Linked DNA regions of Homo sapiens: all the other regions are reported to be linked to region 1. Evidence: microRNA targets listed by miRTarBase, many of them from high-throughput screens and not tested one by one. Region 1 holds a microRNA gene; each other region holds the end of a gene's coding sequence.
What was found. Region 1 holds the annotated microRNA hsa-miR-6746-5p (CCGGGAGAAGGAGGUGGCCUGG, at 2,743-2,764, opposite strand). A microRNA usually pairs through its seed, bases 2 to 8, with sites in the 3' UTR of a target mRNA and lowers its output. Matches are read on the target gene's strand: a 7mer-m8 pairs with bases 2 to 8, a 7mer-A1 pairs with bases 2 to 7 and ends in A, and an 8mer does both.

Region 1 (4,127 bases):
GGCGTGAGCCACCGCACCCGGCCCTGAGACATGGCTTCTGTTTATGAGTCCCTGTTAAGTGTTTCCTTCTGAGAAACTGGATCTGTTAGCTTCTTTCCCTCAGCCTTTGGGGGTAGGTTTGCATAGACCTGCTCACCGCAGGCACTGCTGTTTGTGAGTCTGCAGTAGGTGCTCCAGAAATTCTCACTGTGTGCGTGAAGGCTGGGGAAGGGAGGAAGGGCATGGGACGTGGACAGAAAGGCTCAGGGACCCTGGGGGCTCAGCATGAGGCTGACCTGGACAAGGGTAGGCATAGGCCCTGGGGAAGCCACCAGAACAGAGGGGCCGGGCTGCAGCCTCACCTGACGATGTCCACCAGCGCGGTGAGGAAGGGCTTCACTTCGTAGCTGAGGCCGTGCTTGGCACACAGCGACTTGACCAGCGGGGCCACCCGGCTGTAGTTGTGTCTCGGCATCCTGGGGAAGAGGCTGGGGGTGGGGAGCGTATGCTGGCACCTGAAGTGGGAGATTCCAGAGAGAGGCCCCACCCACGGGTCCCCTCCCAGGATCCCCTCCCAGGACCCCCTCCCCACCTCCCACTGGCCCCCAGCACCCACACTCACTGGTGCTCGATCTGGAAGTTGAGGTGCCCGCTGAACCAGTTGGTGAAAAGTGAGGGCTCCACGTTGCAGGTGGCTGCCAGCTGCCGGAAGCCGGCGGGGCACATGTGAGGAGGCCGTTGCAGATCCCTGACCCCACGGCACCATCCCCCACCTGGCAGCCCCGTCAGGGCCTCATCCCTGCTTTGCCATCTGGCTCCTAGCTGGGACCCCCCACCCCACCCAGGATGGGCCCCACCCCTGCTGCCCACCTGAGAGCTGACCCAGTCCCGGTGCTTCTCGTGGCCGATCTCCTTGGGGATGTGGTTCATCTGTGTGATCCACACGAACCAGTGGCTTTCCAGGACCCTGTGGGGAGGCTCGGGCACTGCCCTAGGTCCAGCTCACCACTTAGGCACCCTGAGTGGAGGCTGGAGAGCAGCTGTCCCCAAGTGGCCTTGACTTCCTTATCTGTACAATAGGATTGTGGCCATCGCCCCCTTGCCAGTGTTTAAAGAATCTGAATGGAGCAGTGTCCACTGTGAGGCTGAGTCCAGAGCAGCTCCGACACCCACCGGGCCACTTACAAGCCAGGCCACGCTCCCTAAACCCACCGACCCTGGGCTCCTGCCACGCTTGTGTTTATGTGATTCCACCAGCAAGCCAGGGAGGCAGTACCACTGGCCCCATTCTGCAGACGGGAAAAGGGAAGCTCTGGTGGGGGGCTGCAGTGGGGGTCACCTGTCGCCTGTGTGTGACCTCGCCACTCCCTGCCATACCTGACAGCAACAAAGAAGAGCAGCACCCCAGGGACGCCGTAGAAGGGGAGGTAGGATAAGAAGAAGCGGGCATAGAAGCTGGCGGCCCAGAGCAAATCCTGCAGAGGAGGGCAGAGGCGATACCGAGAGGTCTCCAGGTGCCCGGAGGTCTGGAGGCCTGGTGGGTGGGAGGAGGACCTCAGGCATCCAACCCTTCTGCCTGATTTGCCTCAGAGCCCAGGACAGGCCACCACCCTCTCTGGTTTTCTCAGCTGAGTAAAGGAACAGGGTCCTTGCCCTGCCAGCTCACGAGGCTGATTTTAGTGACGAAGGTGTCATGCAGGGTGTGTTGGGGAAGACCCTGCCAGGGACACAGATGCCTGGCAGAGTCAGCCCAGCAACTCCTCCTGGGAAGACACCCTCACCGAGAGAGACCCACACCCCCCCTGTTCCTCAACCCCCCCCCACCACACGTACAGTCACGGGCACACTCGCTCTCCTGCTGCGCGCACACATGTGAGCCACACTGTTGCACGCATACATGTGAGCCACACTGTTGCACGCACATGTGCACCCTGTTTGCCTTCATGGGCAGGTACTGTCCCCCGAGGCACCACCTCCTGCCACGGCAGCCGTATGCCCGGGGTCCTGGGCAACCCCACTCACCGCCCACTGCATGCACACCAGCATGTACGCCAGATTTTCCACTTCAAAGTTCACCAGGGTGAGCAGCGGCGGGCCGACTGCAAGAAGGGGCATGAGAGTGTTCAGGAGTGGGGCTGGGCTGCCAAGGTGAGTGGGCGCCAGAGTGAGGGGCTCTGTTACTCCAGGAATGCCCCTGGGACGTTGGTGCTGGTCACATCCAGCTGAATGACCCCATATCACCCCCAATTCTGTGTCCAAGCCTCCCCAGGCTGCCCTTACCCCACCACCTCCCACCACCCTTCACCGCAAGTCAGGGCCAGACTTGAGTCCTCACTCTGTCCGCCCCAACAACTGCCCAAAGACTCTAGGGCTCCGGACCACTCTAGTGAGGGCAAGAAGAAATTCTACGTGGGGCTTGGGGAAGCTCCCAGCAGGGCTGTGATGGCCCGTGGCTGCAAGGTGTCCCAGGCACGGGAGACAGCTGGGGCAAAGGCATGCTGCTGGGAGAGTGTGTACAGACTGCAGAGGCTGGGAGGATGCCATGACCAGGGAGACCTGACAGACGTGCCCCGCCCCAGGAAGTGGCTGGGAGTGGTCCAGGACAGCAGGGAGGACAGTGCAGGCCCAGGCACTCCCCCACCCCAGAAGGACAGATGGACACTCACTCAGGAAGAAGTACAGGTGCTGCTGGTTGTAGGGTAGGTATCTGCGTTTCTTCTTGCCATACTGTGGAGACAGGCGGCGGCTGGAGACAGCAGCTCTCCAGGCCACCTCCTTCTCCCGGGCAAGGTCACGGGGCTGGCTGGGGCCAAGGGTCAAAGGCAACTCTAGATTCTAGCAAGCGGGCTGGTCGTCCCCAGCAGGTTGGGAGGTGGGAAGGAAAGACACGGGGGCAGAGCTTGGCCCAGCCAGAGTGGAGGCCAGATCAGGGGCTAGGTCAGGGGCAGAGTGGGGACCCAGTGCATTAGCTCCCCCTCAGCTGCAGGCCCAGCCAGAGGTTGTCCACGTCCCTCCCCACCCACCTCGACGGATGACTCCCCCAGGAGGAAGACGGGCGCCACCGTCACGTCTGGGTCTTTGTGGAAGATGTTGGGCTTGGCGTGGTGCTGGAAGTGGCGGAAGTTCCACCAGTGGGCGGAGAAGCCCTGTGGAGGAGGAGGGGGCTCTCAGGGCAGGCTGTGCCCCCGACTGTGCCCACACACTTGGGCAGACCCAGCGCCACCCAGCACCTGGCTGACCACCCACCCCACCCTCACCTTTAGCTGCCCCATCACGAACTTCTGGGCCACGTGGTTCCACCAGGACTTCTTGAAGATGGAGGCATGGCCCAGGTCATGCTGCAGACACCAGGACTGAGCCTGGGGAGAGAGGCAGGGTCAGAAGCTGTTGGGAAGGACGGAGCCCGCCAGGGCCTGGGGCCCCAGTGAATCCTTTCAGCTTGCAGGGTACCCCCGTGCTAATGCTCCATTTCAAGACCCTTGTGGGCCAGTGTCCTCTTTTTACAGATGAGAACTGAGTCCCAGGGAGGTGGAGGGGCTCGTAAGTGTCATGAAGCTGCAGGGCAGCAGCCTCTGGCTCAGTGGCCCTGTGCTTGATCGGAATCTGTTCAAGAAGGAACTTCTTGGCTCATCTGGAATGCAGCTTGACCCACAGACATGCCTGATGGGCCTTCAGACTGTTCACTCATTCATCTGTTTATTCATCCATTCATCCTTTCATAGGTCCATTCATTCATTTAGCAAATATGTTCACAATGCCCAGATGCATGGGGGCCCACGTCTGTTGGGCAGTTAAGGTGGCTGCAACACAGAACTGGGGTCACCTGAGAGATGGCCAGGATGAAGGCGGCCAGGGCACTGGGCACCCAGCCAGGACCCAGGAGGTAGATAAGGAGCCAGGCCAGCACCTCCATGGCCAGGATGTGGCCCAGTAGGAAAGCAAAGAAGGTGGGACTGGCATCAAACAGCTTCATGTCCTCGGCTGCCTGGTGCAGGGCTCGGAAGTCCTCGACCAGCTGCGCCTGCCATAGCAGAGGGGCCGATCAGCCAAGGAAGAAATTCCTCCCCACCCCCATTCTCCTGGAGCCCCAGCCGCTCCTCCCATCGCCAGGCCCAAGGGGTGTGGGCAAAGAGGAATGAAGTGACAAG
Region 2 (4,127 bases), not on the chromosome of region 1:
ATTTGGAAAATACTATTAGAAAAATAAAATTATTTGATATCCAGTAACAGTTAATAGCATTCTCTGTATTAAAAAATTACTAAAGGGAAATGGGTATGTCTGCGGCATGGCTGAGAATGAGTAAGATCACACACAGCTTATCTGCTCAACAAATCCTGAATATATCAGACAGCCCATAACATTGCTATGAGAAGTCTGATTCAAATGCTTAGCTGCTATAGTTAGTTAATCTGGGACTCAAAGGACAATATACCTGGGTCAGGGACTGAAAATCACCAGAAGAATTCTACAACAGCCTTTCTGCCTACCAATAACACCTATAGAACTTGACTGGAATCTAACCAGAAGTGTGTTTCATGTCCAAGTATGCTGCTATACATACAAGCTACCTAGGCTTTTAGCTAGAAAAGTTTAGACCATAGAAAATGATACAGGAGGTGCGGTGGCTCACGTCTGTAATCGCAGCACTTAGGGAGGCCGAGGCGGGCAGATCATGAGGTCAGGAGTTCGAGACCAGCCTGGCCAACACAGTGAAACCTCGTCTCTATTTAAAATACAAAAAAATAGCCGGGTGTGGTGGCAGGCGCCTGTATTCCTAGCTATTCGGGAGGCTGAGGCAGGAGAATCGCTTGAACCTGGGAGATGGAGGTTGCAGGGAGCTGAGGTCTCGCTATTGCACACCAGCCCCGGTGACAGTGTGAGACTCCGTCTCAAAAAAAAAAAAAAAAAGAAAAGAAAAGAAAATGATACAAGAAGAAAAGGAAATTCCTTATTCCTGGATTACAAATGAACAAAGGAAACACAATCCAAGGAAAGGGCTGTTGGGGGCACAGAGCCTGGGAAGTGAGCAGCCAGAGCTGTGGAGTTATTTCCCTCCCCTTTTTTTAAAAAGCTCTGGATTGAGAAATTGGAGGGAGGTGGGAAGGTGGGTATGGGGGATGGAGACTCCAGCTGTGCAGCCTCCATTCTGAGAGCTGCTTAGATAAGGTGCGCAAAGCCAGGCATTCCTAGGCTAGCACTGTCAGGATATGATTTGTATCACTTTTGTTTTCACATTATCTGTCTCTTGAGGAAGTCACTGCCTGTCTGCTTTTCACTCTGTACCCTGGGTTTCCCTGATAAGATAGGCAAACTTCCAGCATTACAGAGATTGTTAATCCCCTAGCTTGTGCTTCCCTAATACAAATTGTTTTTTTAAGAAACCCTCAAATTTGTGTTCTAACAATTGGCATGTTTTATACATCTTGACCTCATATCCAGGTTTAAAGGAGGTGAACACACTGGTTCTTAAAGCTTCCCTCTATCACAGACGCTCCTAAATAAGCTATCTGTGGTAATCTAGCCCTGTTCATCTTGCAAACTGAGTTGCTGTATAATTGTATCCAATGTTTGTGTTTAAAAAAATATGACTCTTACACCGGGCGCAGTGGCTCATGCCTGTAATCCTAGCACTTTGGGAGGCTGAGGTGGGCGGATTGCCGGAGCTCAGGAGTTTGAGACCGGCCTGGGCAACAGGGTGAAACCCTGTCTCTACTAAAATACAAAAAATTAGCTGGGCATGGCAGCGTGCACCTGTAGTCCCAGTTACTTGGGAGGCTGAGGCAGGAGAATTGCCTGAACCCAGGTGGTGGAGGTTGTAGTGAGCTGAGATTACGCCACTGCACTCCATCCAGCCCAGGCGACAGAGCGAGACTCTGTCTCCAAAAAAAAAAAAAAAAAAGAAGTATGACTCTTTACCACTGCACTCCCAGTGCTAGTATCAAAGAAAGATAAGAATCATAGGATATTTACGGGTACTTGGTAGATTCCATATTTTGTTTCTATTAGCACTAGAGGAAATCACAGAATGATAACAGGGGTACTTCTCTGAAAACTGGGCGCTACTACTGTGACTCTGACAGGGTACGTAAGTAGAGGATCTGCTCCTGCGCAGCACAACAGCTAAAAGGGTAACCTGTGAGGGTCAGTGCATTAAGAATCTATAGAGGGAGCAGGGATATCTGCGAAAGAAATCTTTCTTTTTTTTTTCTTTTTTTTTTTTTTTTTTGAGACGGAGTCTCGCTCTGTCACCCAGGCTGGAGTGCAGTGGCGCGATCTTGGCTCACTGCAAGCTCTGCCTTCTGGGTTCACGCCATTCTCCTGCCTCAGCCTCCTGAGTAGCTGGGACTACAGGCATCCGCCACCACGCCCAGCTAATTTTTTTTGTATTTTTAGTAAAGACGGGGTTTCACCGTGTTAGCCAGGAGGTCTCAATCTCCTGACCTCGTGATCCGCCCACCTCGGCCTCCCAAAGTGCTGGGATTACAGGCTTGAGCCACCACGCCCGGCCAGAAATCATTTTTTTCTTTTCTTTTTATTAATTTTTGAAGTCATCATTAAGAAATCAACTTTAAATTGAAGAGAAAAGATGGCAGGATGTCAGGATTTTATTTATTTATTTGTTTTTTTGAGGCAGAGTCTTGCTCAGTCACCCAGGCTGGAGTGCAGTCGCATGAGCTCAGCTCACTGCAACCTCCACCTCCCAGGTTCAAGCAATTCTCATGCCTCAGCCTCCCAAGTAGCCAGGATTACAGGCATGTATCATCACACCCAGCTCATTTTTGTATTTTTAGTAGAGACAGTGTTTCACCACGTTGGCCAGGCTGGTCTTGACCTCCTGGTCTCAAGAGATCCACCTGCCTGGACCTCCCAAAGTGCTGGGATTACAGGCGGAACCGCTGTGCCCAGCCCTGATGTCTGGATCTTTAGTATATACATATATAATTTTCTTTCTCTTCCATTTCCATCTTTATCAAGAATCTAAACACTTTCCAGGTCCCAGGCAACCAAATGGCAAGAAAAGCTCAGAAGTGTTTTGTTTGGTAGGTAGCTAGTGTTGCTGGAACCTGGACTGTGGCTGACTAGTAAGACTGCAGGACACCAGTGCCCCTGAGGGCTCATATGGCTCCAGTAGATATGCAGGATCTAGAATAGGTAGGGAGGAGTTACAGAAGGTATGTATTGGCCGCCCACAATCACCGAAAGATGAATTTTTGCATAGGCAGAGACCTTGGTAATTAGCTAAAAATACAGGCATCACACAAACTTCTTATGATATTGGGTTGATCTCAGCAAAAGTATAGAAAGGGAAGGACTTGAAAGAAGAAGTGAATTTTCTATATGTTTAAATGTGTTAACTGGAATGCATGGACATGTGTAACCAAGACCTTTATGTTTAAAAATTAAACTTGCTCTGATCATTAATTCTATAGAATTAATGTTACCAAAGCTGCAGTAACATACTATTCAAAAATTCATTTTCCCAGACTTCTAACTACTTAAAACAAAAAACCCCCCACACACAATTACATACATTCACACAGCTGCTATGCTCCCAAATGGAATGCATATATTAATGCACACACAGAGACACTCAGAAAGCACACGTGCAGGGCTGCCAGAAGACACCCATTTTGAACCTGAGGTGCATGTGGGCCGCAGTGAAGGTCAAGAAGCCTGGCTGCATATCTGTTCAATGTCATTCATCTCTTTGGGACAGTCTGCAGAAAGGATGAGAGGTGAGTCCTGAGTCACCACTACATCATCCTCAATTCGTACACCAAGACCCCGAAACTTCTCTGGGGCATCTTTGTCATCCTCTGGAATATAAATGCCTGTGAAGTAGAAAGAAGAACATGCTGTTCAGGAATGATAGTAACTGGGTGGTTTGGGGCAAGTAAGTTAACCTCTGGGTTAAAATTCCTTCCTCTGTAATACTGGATCTTTATGGTACCTACCTAGTAAAGCTGTGAGGATTAAATGAGATAATACATGTCAAAGTGGCTGGCATATAATGGTCAACACATGTTGGTATCATTACTAAAATTATTATTGTGGTTATCTTTATATTGGACTACAAGCTAAATACAACTACGGCAATGCTGATCATGATTCTGTCATATTCTAGTGGCTCAAGCAGGCCAATAAAGTTACTTAATTTAAAAGTACGTCAATATATGTGGGGGACAAGCAGATTATGTAAGTGCATTCTTCCCCTGCCTAAGAGTCCCTTGGAAAAAGAGCACCTTGCAAAAATAAAGACAAAATATATTTAAACTGTATTCAAAGAAACATTTAGAGATTATTAG
Region 3 (4,127 bases), not on the chromosome of region 1:
TGCACACAGCACTTAAGTGGTGGAATCAGGACACACACAGGCAGTGGCTTCAGAATTCGCACCCTTAACCCCGCACTGACAAGGCTTCCCCAGCAGCTGGCGTTGTCGTTGTAATTACATAAATAAGCATTTTACTAGATTAATGTCGGGGAGGAGAGGTGCGGCCGCAGAGTGTGCCGCCGGGGCCTGCGGGCTCCGCGTGCCGGTGCCGGCGCGGGTGCCAAGCCGCCCTCTCCGCTCGCCCCCAGGTCTTCTGGATCGGACCCCTGGTGGGCGCCATCCTGGGCTCCCTCCTCTACAACTACGTGCTGTTTCCGCCAGCCAAGAGCCTGTCGGAGCGCCTGGCAGTGCTGAAGGGCCTGGAGCCGGACACCGATTGGGAGGAGCGCGAGGTGCGACGGCGGCAGTCGGTGGAGCTGCACTCGCCGCAGAGCCTGCCACGGGGTACCAAGGCCTGAGGGCCGCCAGCGGCCTCTACGGCCCCGACGGACGCTTGTGAGGCCCGAGGCAGAAGGGCCCACCCCGTCCCTCCTCTCCCGCAGGTCTGAAGTTGGCCCCCCAGCGCAGAGTAGCTGCTTCCTGGACGTGCGCGCCCAGGCCAGTGCTGTGAGCAGGCGGGGAGGAGGCTGCCGGAGGGAGCCCTGAGCCTGGCAGGTCCCCTGCCCTGAGGCTGTGAGCAGCTAGTGGTGGCTTCTCCAGCCTTTTTCAGGGAACTGGGAACTTAGGGGACTGAGCTGGGGAGGGAGGCAGGTGGGTGGTAAGAGGGAAACTCTGGAGAGCCTGCACCCAGGTACTGAGTGGGGAGTGTACAGACCCCTGCCTTGGGGGTTCCGGGAATGATGCAACTGGTTTTACTAGTGTGCAAGTGTGTTCATCCCCAAGTTCTCTTTTGTCCTCACATGCAGAGTTGTGCATGCCCCTGAGTGTGAACAGGTTTGCCTACGTTGGTGCAAGTGTGCATGGCTGGGGACTTCTCACTTCCCCTTGCACCCCTTCCTCCCCAACCTGCAATAAATCCGCTTCTCCTGCAGTGGATGAGTGTGGGTGCCAGTCCTCCTCAGGAGAAGGGGAAGGGAAGGAGGCCACTTTGAGAGGGCTGAAGGGAGGGCCTTGATTTCCAGCCGCAATCTGGCTCCTCCTGGAAAATTTCCCCCACCTGCAGCGCTGGGCCCCAAGGCTTGCCAAGACTCATTGCTGGAGGTAGAGAGGTGTCAACCAGAGAACAGCTCCCCTAGACATGGCCTCTGGAAAAAGGAAATCTTTGGTGGCCAAAGATTTCCTTTCTGTGGTGAGGGAGAACCTCTCCAAAGAGGAAGCAGGCATATGAGTGCGCACGCCTTCACGTGTGTGTATGCTGTGTGTGCCCGGGACCCCCGTCTCCAGGGGTGCCCCAGACCCAGAGATTAGCCTCCCACTTCGGCGCAGAAAACAAAAGCCCTTTGTGGGACCCGGGCCTTTGTCTTGGGTGAGGGGAGATTTGCACCTAGACACTTCTTGAAAGGAGACACTCAGTTTCACAAGTGAGCCCTCTTGCCCAGCACACACCTATGGCTGGCTGGGCAAGGCGCTCAGGCATGCAACCATGGGCACCAGGCAATACCCATCCATCACCCATCTCACTCTCCCCAGTCCTCAGGCAGCAGCTTTTCCACCCCAGGAATCTCTGTTCCTTCTCTGTCTGCCTCTCCACAGCCCGTGATCCCCTGCTTCTGGCTCCTACCACTGGACAGTCATTGTGGATAGAGCAGCCTGCTGCTCTCAGGACCAGAGAAGGGAAATGACTTCTCCAGGCAGAGGCAGATCTGAGTCTAGAACCCAGGCTTCTAAATTTCTAGGCCAGTACTACTGCTCTCAAAAGAGATTAACTGGGATTAAGTGAGATGACGCATGTAAAGATGCTGTGTAAACTGTAATTCTTAATACCATTATCACGCATTACTAGAATCATTTCATTATTTCTGCTTCCTGGGGGAAGGATGCAGAAGGAGTCTGATGCTCAACATCCCTTACCTCCTTTCGTTGATGGCCAAAGCAAAGGAGAGTCCTGGGAGCCCACAAGATCCAGGCAGAAGGAGATGGGTTTGGGGCTGGCCCCATCCTGGCCCAGCCTCTTAACCTCTTCTTACCCTGAATGTGTGCCCTATCTTTTCTCCCACCTCCTTCCTCCTACCACCCAGCCCTATCCATTCTCTCCTTCCCTCTCCAGCCTGCTGTATAAGTAACATGTGGGTCATACCTTGAACCCCCCTCCGCCCCCATGCTCTCTGTGGCCTCCATGCCTTCAAGACTTCTGTCTGTATCTATCTCACACTGCACCAAGCACCCACTGTGCACCAGGCACTAAGTCTCTAGCCTCTTTCTCCCTTCTGCTCCCATCCAAGAAAGACAGTGTATAAGGAACATCTCTGTAATTGTGTCCCCTCTCATCTATGCTCTTTCCTGTCTTCCTTGACCAAAGCTCTCTTTGAGGTCCAAAAAAGGCTGCCCTGGGCCATATGTGCTATGGAGAGGACTCTCCCAAACCCCCAATAGCTAGTGACAGCCACTTGGCCTCACTACCAGAAGAAGGGTGGAGTCAGAAACCAAAGTGACCTCCAGAGCTGTCCTCCTGGCACCTGAGTGTCCTTGCTCTAGAGGTTCAAAGGCAGCAAGGCAGTGAGCTATGAGCCCAGCATGGATGTGTCTCAGGCACCTCATCCCCACCCCACCTCACCCCAACAAACTCCTCTAGAAGAAGCCAAGAATTTCTCTCTATGTCTGTTTCACTTTTTGGATTGCATCTCCCCAAAAACTAAATGTGAAATCCCTACCATTTCTAGCCTCTATTGCCCAGATTGGAGTCAGAGGTCAAAAAAGGATTCCAAGTGATGGAACTCCAGGGGTGGAGGGAAATTGGCAGTTCCTGGCATCTCTTGTGTACCAGCTGCTGTGCTGGGTGCCTTGCATGCACGGACTTATCTGATCTTCCTCAAACTTCAGATAGGTTAGGGAAGGACAAAGGCCCCCAGCCATGAAGGGTTTTGCTATTTCCAAAGCTTCCCCTTATCGTCCCCTGTGATTATCTCCCAACCCCGTGACAAAGGTAGAGCAAATATTGTTCTTCCCATTTTACAGATTCAGAAACCAAGGCTAAGGGACTGGTCTAAAGTCTCACAGGTAGTATATGGTGGAGCCAACACTTGAACTCAGACCTTTTTACACAAAATCCCATGATTTTTCCACTGAGACAAATCCTAGGCTCCTGGGAGGCCCTGGCAGAAGCCAGAACACATGGCTGGGCCTTTCCAGCCCAACCCACTGTCTTGCAGTGGACGGAGAGCCTTGGCGAGGGCAGCAGGGTAGAGAGGACAAAGAATGTGGGGCTGGTTTCTGCCCTTTAAGAGCACCCGGTCAGTCAGAGAACAGAGATCACACACACCAAACCAGACAGAGGCAGGGCAGCATGGAGACAGGTAGACAGACCTCCAGGTCCCTAAGCTGGGGACAGAGAAGGTTCTGAGCTGTCCCATACTCCCACTTTGTGCCAAATGACTTTGCACCTGCAAATGGTGCTTCAATGTCGTTTTGTATCTTTAAGCTGTGATGTTGTATATATACAATGCCTCCCAGCTAGACTGTAAGCCCTTTGGGGACAAGGGCTGCTTCCAGTTCTTGGATGGCGTTCTCCTATCTACCTTCCTTCAACTGCTCTGCATATAATAAGCACTCAATAAATGCTCATTTGCCAATAAGTACTGTTTCTTCCACAACTTGGCAGTGGTAATAGAAATACAGCCCAAGGTACCAGAAGACAGGCGGAGCTCCCTACCACTTCTACCCCAGCCCTCAACTTCTCCCAGGGAACTCAGAAGTCCCCATATCAGGAGAGGAGGGGAAGGGCTCTCCCTAAGACATTCAAATTCCCCCTGCCACAAATGGGGAGACCCATCACTCAGCTCACAAAGGTCCCGGGCATTCCTCTGGAGCTGCCAGGGCAGGGCCTGAGTGCTTGGGCAAAGAGAATTCCGAGACATAATGGGAGTTTACTGTGATGACTTGAGGACAGAGGGACTCTAGTGGTTAGAGAGATGGAAGAGCCTAAGACACAGGCCCTAGGAAACAGAATCAGCTGCCCTGTGTGAGTAACC

Region 2: miRTarBase lists XPNPEP3 as a target of hsa-miR-6746-5p. Seed matches in the 3' UTR shown: 7mer-A1 at 604-610.
Region 3: the mRNA of AQP2 is a reported target of hsa-miR-6746-5p. Seed matches in the 3' UTR shown: 7mer-m8 at 533-539.

Annotation. Positions count from the first base shown.
Region 1 is chr11:61,875,510-61,879,636 of GRCh38, forward strand. It overlaps MIR6746 (microRNA 6746), which reads right to left and starts at 2,769; the gene lies at 2,707-2,769. It overlaps FADS3 (fatty acid desaturase 3), which reads right to left. Exons shown (of 12, transcript NM_021727.5): 3 at 3,803-4,000; 4 at 3,237-3,338; 5 at 3,003-3,125; 6 at 2,646-2,706; 7 at 2,002-2,078; 8 at 1,357-1,454; 9 at 850-946; 10 at 602-681; 11 at 342-467. RefSeq lists an enhancer at 3,658-4,127.
Region 2 is chr22:40,925,795-40,929,921 of GRCh38, reverse strand. XPNPEP3 (X-prolyl aminopeptidase 3) reads right to left here. Exons shown (of 10, transcript NM_022098.4): 10 at 1-3,653. The coding sequence ends at 3,487. Among named protein-coding and RNA genes, the nearest start is that of RBX1, 24 kb to the left of the region's middle.
Region 3 is chr12:49,955,151-49,959,277 of GRCh38, forward strand. It overlaps AQP2 (aquaporin 2), which reads left to right. Exons shown (of 4, transcript NM_000486.6): 4 at 249-3,728. The coding sequence ends at 458. All of the region lies in intron 1 of AQP5-AS1 (AQP5 and AQP2 antisense RNA 2), which reads right to left. Among named protein-coding and RNA genes, the nearest start is that of AQP5, 4.7 kb to the right of the region's middle.